Linked DNA regions of Homo sapiens: region 1 is linked to region 2. The links come from fine-mapping of genetic effects on gene expression. A gene starts in region 2. The other region holds a variant in brackets. All regions are shown on one strand. Distances are between the middles of the regions.

Region 1 (5,000 bases), 45 kb before region 2:
GGGAGTCCTCCTTCCCACCCTGCACTCTTACTCAGCCTTCTCCGTCCTAGACCAGTGACCCTGAACAGCTGTGGGGCAGCCCTGCGGGACTGTGGCCAGATCCCTGCCCCTGGGTAGCAGCCCAGAGCCAGGCCCTGGACACCCACCTGCCACCACGGTGCTGTTTAGTTCAGAAGGATGCAGTTTCTGAACCCCTCACTTAACCTTCCTCTCTGGAAGGTGTCTGGGGCAGCCTCTGTGTGTGCCCTGGAGCAAGGGAGGGACACAGACTCACCAGATGGAAGAGGCGCGAGTTGGGGAGTGGGGGCGGGTGCTCCATGGCCATGGGGGGAGGGGGGTAGCGGATCTGGGACCAGTCCTCGAAGCCATGGTGTGGCACCATGGCTGGCATGGGCGGGTAGGCGTAGGGGTAGGCCCCGCAGAGATGTTCTGGGTGGGGCTCCACATGGTAACGCTCTCCTGAGGCCTGCAAGAAAGGCTGACGTCTGGCTTTGGCCTGCAACAGGCTGCAAAGGACACCCATCTCATCACCCTCTAAATAGAATGTTAGCTCTCTGAAGGCTAGCAGGCTGGGTACCAAAGGCTGGTATGTGGTCATGAAAGGCTGCTACATGGGTACAGAAATCTGGATACATGGGCATAGAAGGCTGGATATATGAGCATGGAAGGCTGCATGGGCATGGAAGGCTGGGTACACATGCATGGAAGGTTGTGACATGGGCACAGAAGGCTGGTACATGGGCACGGAAGGCTGGTACATGGGCATGGAAGGCTAGTACATGGGCACGGAAGGCTGGTACATGGGCACGGAAGGCTGGTACATGGGCACAGAAGGCTAGTACATGGGCATGGAAAGCTGGTACATGGGCATGGAAGGCTGGTACATGGACACGGAAGGCTGGTACATGGGCACGGAAAGCTAGTACATGGGCACAGAAGGCTGCTACATGGGCAGTGAAGGCTGGTACATGGGCACAGAAGGCTAGGTACATGGGCAGTGAAGGCTGGTACATAGACACGGAAGGCTGGTACATGGGCACGGAAGGCTAGAACATGGGCACAGAAGGCTGGTACATGGGCACGGAAGGCTGGGTACATGGGCACGGAAGGCTGGGCACATGGGCATGGAAGGCTGGGCACATGGGCACAGAAGGCTCATACATGGGCACGGAAGGCTGGGTAAATGGACACAGAAGGCTGGGCACATGGGCACGGAAGGCTGATACATGGAAACGGAAGGCTGAGCACATGGGCATGGAAGGCTGGTACATGGACACGGAAGGCTGGTACATGGGCATGGAAGGCTGGGCATGGGCACAAAAGGCTGGGCATGGGCACAAAAGGCTGGTACATGGGCACGGAGGGCTGGAACATGGGCATAGAAAGTTGGATACATGGGCACGGAAGGCTCATACACGGCCAAAGAAGGCTAGTCACATGGGCACGGAAGGTTGCTACCTGGACACAGAATGTCAACAGTGATGACAGCTAATACATTGTGGGCACTGCCTCTGTACCAATACTGCTCTAAGGCTTTTCCTGTATTACTCATCAGTTAGTTAGCAGAGGATGTCCCCACGCCCGAGCACACACTGTGCATCCATCAGGCTAGCTCCATGAGGAAGGTAAGAGGATGTCAGTGCTGCTACCTCCCTCAAGCCTCCTCACCTTTGCTTTCCTCTTCTGCTGTCTGAGGGCTTCTCTTGCCTTCTCCTCATCTTTGAATGCTTTTAGCTGAGAGAAGAAGGGAGGGAGAAAAGACTGTCGGCACAGGTGGTTTCTGGCCAGGCCTGGATCCAGGGCCTAACCAGCCACGAGGACTGACCGGCTGATGCTTCCCTCTGGGCCACCATGCGTGGGCCAGCCCCGGGAAAGGGCCCTGAGGGCGGAGCACAGCCCAGGCTGTTGCTGCAGGCCACCTGCTTGTCACAGTGGTCTGTGCACAGGTCAAGAGGGTTCACGTGAACCTCGCTGCTTCTCTGCTAACATCTTTTAGTTCCACTCTGGGAGAGTAAAGCCCAGAACTGACTGTGGAAAGTCAGAGGTAGAGATATCTTAGAGTAAAACTCGTAATTGTACAAAGAAAGAGTCAGAGAGGGGAAGGGCCTTGCCGAGCTCAAATATGATTGCAGAGCTGGAGAGAAGCAGTGAGGGTCCTGACATCCAGCCTCACCAGGGCCCTCCAATCCATGCCCCCTCTCCCCACGAGGACAGGCCAGTTGCCCTTCCTGGGTCCAGTCACTCTTACCTGGGCATTTGACAGGGTGACCTGGGCCTGCAGCTTCTCCACTTGCTTCTTCAGCTCTTCCTTCTCCTCATTCATGCGCTCACGATCACTGCGCTCCCTCTGGAAGTCCTCCTCGAAGATCTTCACCTGGTGTGGAGGGAGGGTGAAGAGAGGGAGGGGGATGGTCCTGAGTGGGGATTTCTCCTCAGGCCCAGA[C/T]TCCCATGCCTCCTGCTGGGGTCACAGATGGCAGAGCTGGGGGTCGCCATGGGGAGTGGGACAGCTACACCTCCAGCCTCCACCTTAACTTCAAACAGAGTAGTTCTGTGTCCCTCTATCTTACATTCTGGGCTTCAAGCTAGGACTTTATTTGAACAAAGGATATATGGTTTTAAAAAAACGTTGAAAGCCATCAACCAGTGCAATCCTTTCACTCCGCTGAGACCCACAGGGGCAGTGATCACAGAACCAGAGTGTGGTGTAGACCAGAGTTTGGATCTGCTGGTTCTGAGGGCAGAGACCCTACAAACTCCGCTAGGGCTCCAGGGTGCCCTGGCAGAGGTGGGTTGGGTGGGGCCTGCCTCTGTCTCTTAGCCTGTAGTTTCACATCCTTAGTGCAGATCAGCTGAGACACTGGCTAGGTTCAAGGCAGTTTAGGAGGATTAAATAGCACAGAGACAATGGGAGAGCCACAACCTTTTCGCTTTCTTTCACCCCAATCCTTCTGTGTCCCTCAGGGCTAGTAGGTCTTTAATACCATTTTAGTACCTGCCAATCTCCTTTAAATAAAGGAGAAAAGAACTCCAGTTCAGAGTCTTCATTTGGCAAGAGTATCCGGCTAGAGTTTAATAACATTGTTCTGTTTTTATTGTTTATTGCGTACAGTTACTTTCTACTTGTGACAAATAATAAATGGTTTTTTCCAATTACAGCAGTGATATAAAGCTCCCTTTTAAATTCATTTATTTAGAATTTATTTTTTAAATACTAGGTAAATAATAGCACGTGTGGGGCATAGAGATGGCTAAATCATAAAGGTGGTAGAGGAACGACTTAAGCTAGGGTTATGGTGCTGGAAAGGATAAACCTAGAGCCAGTGGGGGGCCCTGGCCAATGGCCAGAAAGTGGATTACTAATTACAGGTTCCATGTGATTCCAAGCCGTCTGGGCCCTCAGGAAAGCTCCAGCTCCCACAGAGCACCTCCCACCTGATTTCCTCCCGGAAGCCTCACCTGCTGTTTCAGCAACTCATTCTGCGTGACCAGCTCCTGTTTCCTTAGGAGGGCCCCTGCTCCTTCTGGGCTCCCAAATGCTGTTGGTGGAGATGATGGCGGGGTTTGGATGCTCAGTGCTTCCTCCAGGGCCTGGAATCAGGAAAAGATGGGACCATCAGCAGGAACCCCTGGAAATCAGGGCCCTTTGGAGGGGTCATCCTCAGGGAACTCCTTCCTAATAATAATCATACTAATAATAGCCACCACTACCAGTCCTATTTAATAAATGCTGCCCTATTTATTTGCATTCTACACATATCATTTCATTGGATCTTCTGCACAGTGCCATGAAGAAAAGACTATGATCATCATCCTCATTTTACAGATGTGAAAACTGAGGCTCAGAGACCTGAAGGGGCTTGTCCAAGGTCAAGGTCACACAGCTAGTAAGTGGCAGAGCACAGATTCAAGCCCAGCACATGCTCCTACCCAGCAGGCTAAACTGGGGTTGTCATGCAGAAGGGGAAACCTCCCCTTCCCTGAACATGTGTGGCTCAATTCTTAGCACCCAGACCTAGAAGGAAGATTAAGTCCTCCGGGGGAAGCTTCAGTCTCCCCAACAACTGCCCTGCCCTGAGATTCTTCACTTTCAGCAACCCATTCCCATCCAAACCACCCCTTCCATCCTCAACACTTATGTACATAGAGAAGACTGGATTTAATTTCTGCTTAGTTAATATTTTCCCTTTCTAACACTGAAAATGGGCTGAAATATCATCAAATAACATTTTGAAAATAAAAAAATACTCTTAATCTATCATGTTCACAATAGATTATATAAACAGTGTGCCCACATCTTCTTAAAGGTTTCAGTTAACCGTGTTTCCCCTTTAACTCTGTTAACATGTTACTCAGAACTCTGGAACATGTCTCAAGACTGGGCACCCTGGACTTTGGCCCCAGGACAGCATCGCCCATGGGCCTCCCTGGACCGAGGGGAGATAGAGACCTGGCCCAACTTGGACTCGGGCTTCCACCTGGTCTCCTCAGCTCCCCTAGACACGCAAAGAAACTGCAGGACCGAGAGTAAATTCAGGATGCTCCGAGGGGAAGTTATGGCTCCACTTTATCTTCCTACTCCACCCCACTTTTAAATGAAAAGACTGAGGTCCAGCGACAGGGAGATGCCTAGGTCATGAGCAAAGAAGGCCACATGCCCTGCATTACTCATCCACATGGTGTCTGTCCCTGGCTCTGCCAAGAAAACCTCCAAGGTCATCTTTATGATCAGCAACATGGACAATTCTCTGCCTGGATTTAGAGCCCCAAGTCCCCCAGCTCAGGACAGATCGCGTTTCTTTCTCTGGAAACAGGTCAAGGGCCCCAGACTTGGCATAATCAGTGTTTACAAAACACCAAAACCAAAAAGAAAGGGTTTCCCCAGCAGGCCTAGGAATGCTCAACTCATGCCAGAGTCCACTGTCACCAGGGTCAGGAGGCAGAGGGAAAGGAAAAACAATTAGCACGAAACGAAAAGCTGAGCCATGAACTTAACTCCTCCA
Region 2 (5,515 bases):
ATCAAGAACACTGCATGGCACTGGGCACAGGAGTCATCAGGAAATGATGCTTGGGAGAGCGCTAGGAGAGCACTCTGGTTCTCCTCCTGCCTTCTCATCTCTAGGCCTTAATTTCCTCATTTGTGAAATGTGCCATTATTCTACTCATTCACTGAACAAACTCAGAAGAGCCATCCACCAGGCACTCTTCTCCCGCTACAGAAATACACTCGAGAGGACTAAGGAGGTCCCTGCTCACCCCCTTCTATTCTAGGAAAAGAGAAAGACAGTAAACAAATAAACACTAAAAATAACAATTTGCCAGACACTAAGTTCTATACATATGCTTTCTCATTCGCAAATAAGATTCTTTCATAGCATGATACACGTATGAGAAAAATAAAATAGTAACGTGACAGAAAGTGAAAAAAGGGGCTGCTTTGCATAAAAAGATCAGGGAAGGCCCCTCTGAGGAGCTGACATTTGAGCTGAGACTTGATCGATAAGGAAAAACCAGCCATGGGAAAAACGGGGAAAGATGTCCTGGGCAGAGGGAACAGCATGTATGAAAGCCTAAGGATGAGAACAAGCTTGGCTTGCTGGAGGGGGAAAAGCAGGCCAGCATGGTGTGACCAAATCACAGCGGGTACAGGAGTAAAACAGTAACCAGTGGGTTGGAGAGAGAGGCAGACAAACAACCTCCTACAACGCTGCCTCTCTCAAATCAGGTCGGCCTGACCCAACCAGGACATCCGGGCCCCAAGTCACAGGCAGCACTGGGGGTAAGGGTATGACTCAGACCCCACAGCTTCCTGGGGCCCCGAAAAAACTGGTGGGGGTATCCAGGGGCAGGCATCAACCTTCAGCATGAGTGCCATGCCATACCCATGGAACACCCAAGGCTGGGAGACAAACGTGGTTACATAAGCGTGTAGAACACTGCACACTCCCAGCGGCAGCTTCCAGAGGGGCATGATCACGTGCTTCCATGAAGTGCCAGTCCCTGATCACATTATTTTCCCGGGACACAGCCAGGACAGCAGCCTTGGTCAGGGGAAAGGGAACAGGGTCCAGGATTCAAGCGTTGCTAGTCTTGGGAAAGCCTTAACCTTCTCTGGGCCTCAGTTTCCTCATCTGAAAATTAAGAGTTGTTAGAAAGATTAAGTGAGGCCGGGCGGGGCGGCTCACACCTGTGATCCCAGCACTTTAGGAGGCTGAGACGGGCGGATCACTTGAGGTCAGGAGTTTGAGACCAGCCTGGCCAACATGGTGAAACTGTCTCTACTCAAAATACAAAAAAATTAGCCGGGGATGGTGGCGAGTGCCTGTAATCCCAGCTACTCGGGAGGCTGAGGTAGGAGAATCGCTTGAACCTGGGAGGCAAGTTGCCGTGAGCCGAGATCGTGCCACTGCACTCCAGCCTGGGTAACAGAGTGAGACTCTGTCTCAAAAAAAAAAAAAAGATTAAATGAGATACGGAATGTAAGCACTGTGCCTGGCACATAGTAAGCTATTAGCATTATCAGTTTTTTCACTGCCTCAGTTTCTTCTGTTGCAAAACAGAGACCACCACGGGGATGCTGAGTTTGTACTAATATTCTACCCTCCTAATACAATTCTACCCTCCTTTGTCAAGGATTTTTTTAAAACATTCTGAGTCCCCTTTTCTGACCTCTCATCAGATGCCGAATTCCCCTCTATCACACCCCATTGTTTGGAAAATGAGTAAGTGCTGATTAAATCCCATTTTGACCGTACTGTGAGAAAAAAATGATGCATTAGGAATCTACACATTTCCCTGCACTGTCATTCTGCAAGGGGGTGGGGAAGGACGTTGCTGATTCTTCTGCATCATCCACAAAAGTCCCTCCCTCCCCCTACCAAAACACAATCTCTCACCCAGTCGCACAAAATTCCCATCTGCTCCTGTACGCACAATGAATGTACAATGCACACGTGCACACAAATGTCCTACAGTGGAAAGCTCAGCCTTCATACTCCATCCCCAGAAGCACTCCTGGAAACTCATCCATCCTGCACATGCACACAAATGCCTCCAACAATGTGCATACAAAATATGTTCAACAGAAATAGTATAGTAGGAACTCTGGAGCCAAATGCCTGAGTTCATATCTGACTTTGCAACTCACAGCTGTGTGACCTCAAGCTCCAAGTACCTCGGTTTCCTAAAGTATAAAATGGAGATAATAACAATATTAATGTTTAGGATGGAAGTGACAATTAAATGAGTCTAATACACGTACAGCGTTAAGATCAGCACTTGGAAAGCGCCCAATAAAAATTATTATTTTCCTCCTCGTGACATATGTACACTGCTTCCACAACTTGATACGAAAACTCCTGACGCCGCGTAGGCAACTCGTCTCCACAGGATAGACACCCAAAGGGCCGCAGCGCCGCCCGCACCCGGAGGGTCTGCGCTCTCTACAACCGCCCCACGCCGTTCCCAGGCGTGCTACCCCGCGCAGTGCGCACGCGCGCCCCCCACCAGGCCCAGCGCCAAGCAGGGAGTAGCGGCTCAGCCCGGCTTGGCCGCTGGCGGAGACGCCCCGGGACCCCGCGCGCCGGGCCTGGGTGCACAAGCCACCTTCCCCAGCTCGCTCCCCGCCGCCACCGAGGCTCTGGACGATCTGGGCCTGGCCTCCCTTCCTCCCCTCCATCCCCGCTCCGGGCCGGCCGGCTTACCCGAGGACGGGGAGCTTGGGGACACAGCGCCCCGCTTGCTGCGTCCAGCCCCGAATCCAGGGACGGGGCAGCGGCCCGGGCAAGGCTCCGGCCCCCCGTAGCACTCCTAGGGCTCCTGGACGGGGGCAGGGCACCCGGGCCGAGGACGAGGAAGTGCCGGGGGCCTGGCCGGGCCGCCCCACCCCTGGGAAAGTCCCCGGAGACTGGCAGGCCACTCGCCCAATCGCGCCGCGCGCTCCGGGCGGGCCCGCGGCCGCCTGGGGTGGGACCGAGCGAGGTAAACACCGGCTGCCTGCGGTTCCGGGGGCCCGCGGTGTCTCTCGTCCCTTCGGCGGCCTTCCCCTCTAGGAGCGACTTCCCTGGGGCCACCGTCCCGGGCCTGCGCGGCGCCTTGCCGCACTCCCAGCGCCGGAAGCCCCTGTCGAAGGCCTGGGGCCACCTTGAAAGCCGGAATTTCAGAGCGGAGGCGAGCCACAGAGACCACCCAGCCCCTTCCTTGTGCCGAGGGGAACACAGGCCAGAACAGGGAGGGGACCTGCCAAAAGGCACGTAAGCATTTGGCCCTAAGCCAGAGCTGGAGCTCAGGCCCCCAGAGTTCCGTCCAGGGCACTCCAGGACTCTTCTTAACAAAGCTATAGAAATTCCGAGCTGAAAAGACCCATAAAGACTCTACCGCGAACATTTTTTGCTCCAGACATTGTAAAGGATTCCCAGACATCGTAAACGCTTTGCTCCAGACATTGTAGATGCTTTGCGTGCATTATTTTCTTCGCACAATCACGCTAGGGAGGTGGGTTTTACTACCTTTTCTTAAATAATATTTGAGTCACAAAAAGGTTAGATGACCTCAGTAAGGGGCTGAATCAAGATTCAAACCCGGGTGGGCAAATCCAGAGGCCGCCTTCCACCCTACCTACTTATATGTGGGCTAGATAATCCCAACAGACTGGGATTTCCTAGACCGGTAAGGAACATAAACTTGCTTTAAGGGTAGGAAAGCTTTTTAAAAGCTTATCCTTTTATTTTTAAAAAGAAAGAAAGCTAAATTTTAATTCCAAAAAGTGGAAGGTCTAACCTTGGAATAAAGAACAGCTCTTTAAACTAAATATAGCTTTATGAAAAACCTATTGCAAAAGACCCATTTCACTGGTACTGTTGAAAACTTAGTCATTGACAGGCCCTCATCCTCAAAAAGAATTAGGGGAAAGGATTTGGGGAACTGTTTAATACACACCCTCATTTTACAGAAGAGAGACCCATCAATCAACTGTGACTTCGCAATAATACACACACAGATACTTGCCCAAATTATATACCTAATCTGGGGATTCTCCTATAAGGCTTTGTAACCTCCTAGGGTTCCTTCAGTTAATTCAACGGTGTTATCAGATCTTCAAAACGATATTCATTCTAGTTTAATTATGAAAAGAATTACACTTATGCCTTGATTCAGAAGGGAGGGAGGGAGGAAGCGATGCAAACTCCAAAGCACCACTGAGTCTCACCACTGGGGGATCCTACAGAGAAACTGGGAATCCTGGCCCTGGTTTACATAGCAGCTCCCAGGCATCGTCTCCACCCATCAGGTCCGCACCTGCCAGTTTTCTTCCTGCTCTTTGTGCCTGTACTTCCCAATTCTCTTCCTGCAGGGCTCTCTTCCTATTCCCAACCCACATCTTCTCCACCCCCACCCTCTACCCACTGAAAACTAAAATCTACCTAAAAATGGCTGGTCTCTAATTACTTGCATTTTGTTTCCACACTATTTCAGCTGTTTTTATAGCATGTCTGGCCTTAGCCGGGCAGACAGTTTCATTTCTCAAAGTGTCCGCTGGGAATTCTCAAGCTTGACATAAAAAAATGGCACTCAGTCATCTTTTTGTCTGATTTCCTAGTTCTGGATCCTTTTTCTTAACAGTTCCAATTTGTGAGAAAACTCATTTATTTATAAAGTCGTGACTGCCCCCACCTCTTCCATTCTTTGAAGTCTTGGTTTGTCTTCAGGACATTCCACCCTGTTAGAGACCATGGAGCCCATAGATAACAAACCCCTATTTGACAGATAGGTAAACTGAGTCCTCTGTCTAGAAAAGGACTTACTCTAGGCCACACACATTGAGTGACACAACCAGGGCCTTGGAATCCAGGGCCTTGGCTCCCAGTCCTGTGTGCTTGGTCCACTGTACCAAGTTGTCTTTACAATGACATGATTTTTCTCACTGCCTTGCAGAAAACACCACTGTCATAAACACAGGCTATGAATTGAGCTAATGGGATTCCAATCCCTGCTCAGCCACTTACTACCTGGGTGGCCCCTCTAAGCCTCAGGCTTCTGTCTGGAAAATGGGGGATAATATACCTATTCCTCATGTGAATCATGAGGATAAATTGGACAATGCAAATAAAGCCCAAGGCTCAGCACACAGTAGGCATTCAAGAAATGATAGTGGTGTCTAGATGTGGGCTGCATGCATTGGGTAGAACTTGGCTCTTAAACTCAGCAATGCAACCTCACCAGGCGCCATCCCACCATACACATCCTCTGTGAGACCCTAGCCTCTAGGAGCATGGCAGGAATGGGAGACAGGCCCCCTAGCCTGGCACTGCCTGCTACCCTGTGGTCTGGAAGGGGATTTCCAAGTCAAGAAGCTGGGCCTGACGCTGGGAGCTGAGTGACTCAGGCAGGTGCAACCTCTTGTTCTTCCAGAGTAATGACAAGCACTCGCACAAAGCCACACCCAGAAGGAGAATCAAACTGCCTTTGTTTTGTTTTGTTTTATTTGGTTTTGTTTTAAAGCACGCAACTTCTCGATCTCCTTTCTGCTACTCC

Which allele goes with the higher level. Alleles are on the strand shown, and positions count from the first base shown. SD is a standard deviation of normalised expression in the study named.
For the expression in monocytes after LPS of the gene that starts at base 2,840 in region 2, T is the high allele of the variant in region 1 and C is the other (moderate effect, 0.45 SD a copy in Quach 2016).

The links. PIP is the estimated chance that this variant, and not a neighbour inherited with it, causes the effect. A credible set is the group of variants that fine-mapping cannot tell apart.
Region 1: its variant is the best candidate, but not a certain one, in a credible set for the expression of TNIP1 in monocytes after LPS (Quach 2016, PIP 0.66).

What each region holds. Positions count from the first base shown.
Region 1 is chr5:151,033,334-151,038,333 of GRCh38, forward strand. TNIP1 (TNFAIP3 interacting protein 1) reads right to left here. Exons shown (of 18, transcript NM_006058.5): 13 at 3,457-3,588; 14 at 2,249-2,374; 15 at 1,669-1,734; 16 at 275-466. Among named protein-coding and RNA genes, the nearest start is that of GPX3, 15 kb to the left of the region's middle. The variant C/T (reference allele first, on the strand shown) is at 2,444.
Region 2 is chr5:151,078,195-151,083,709 of GRCh38, forward strand. It overlaps TNIP1 (TNFAIP3 interacting protein 1), which reads right to left and starts at 2,840. Exons shown (of 18, transcript NM_006058.5): 1 at 2,686-2,840. RefSeq lists silencers at 670-719, 2,405-3,074, cis regulatory regions at 2,352-3,140, 2,640-3,409 and enhancers at 2,950-3,660, 3,375-3,434, 5,247-5,356, 5,477-5,515.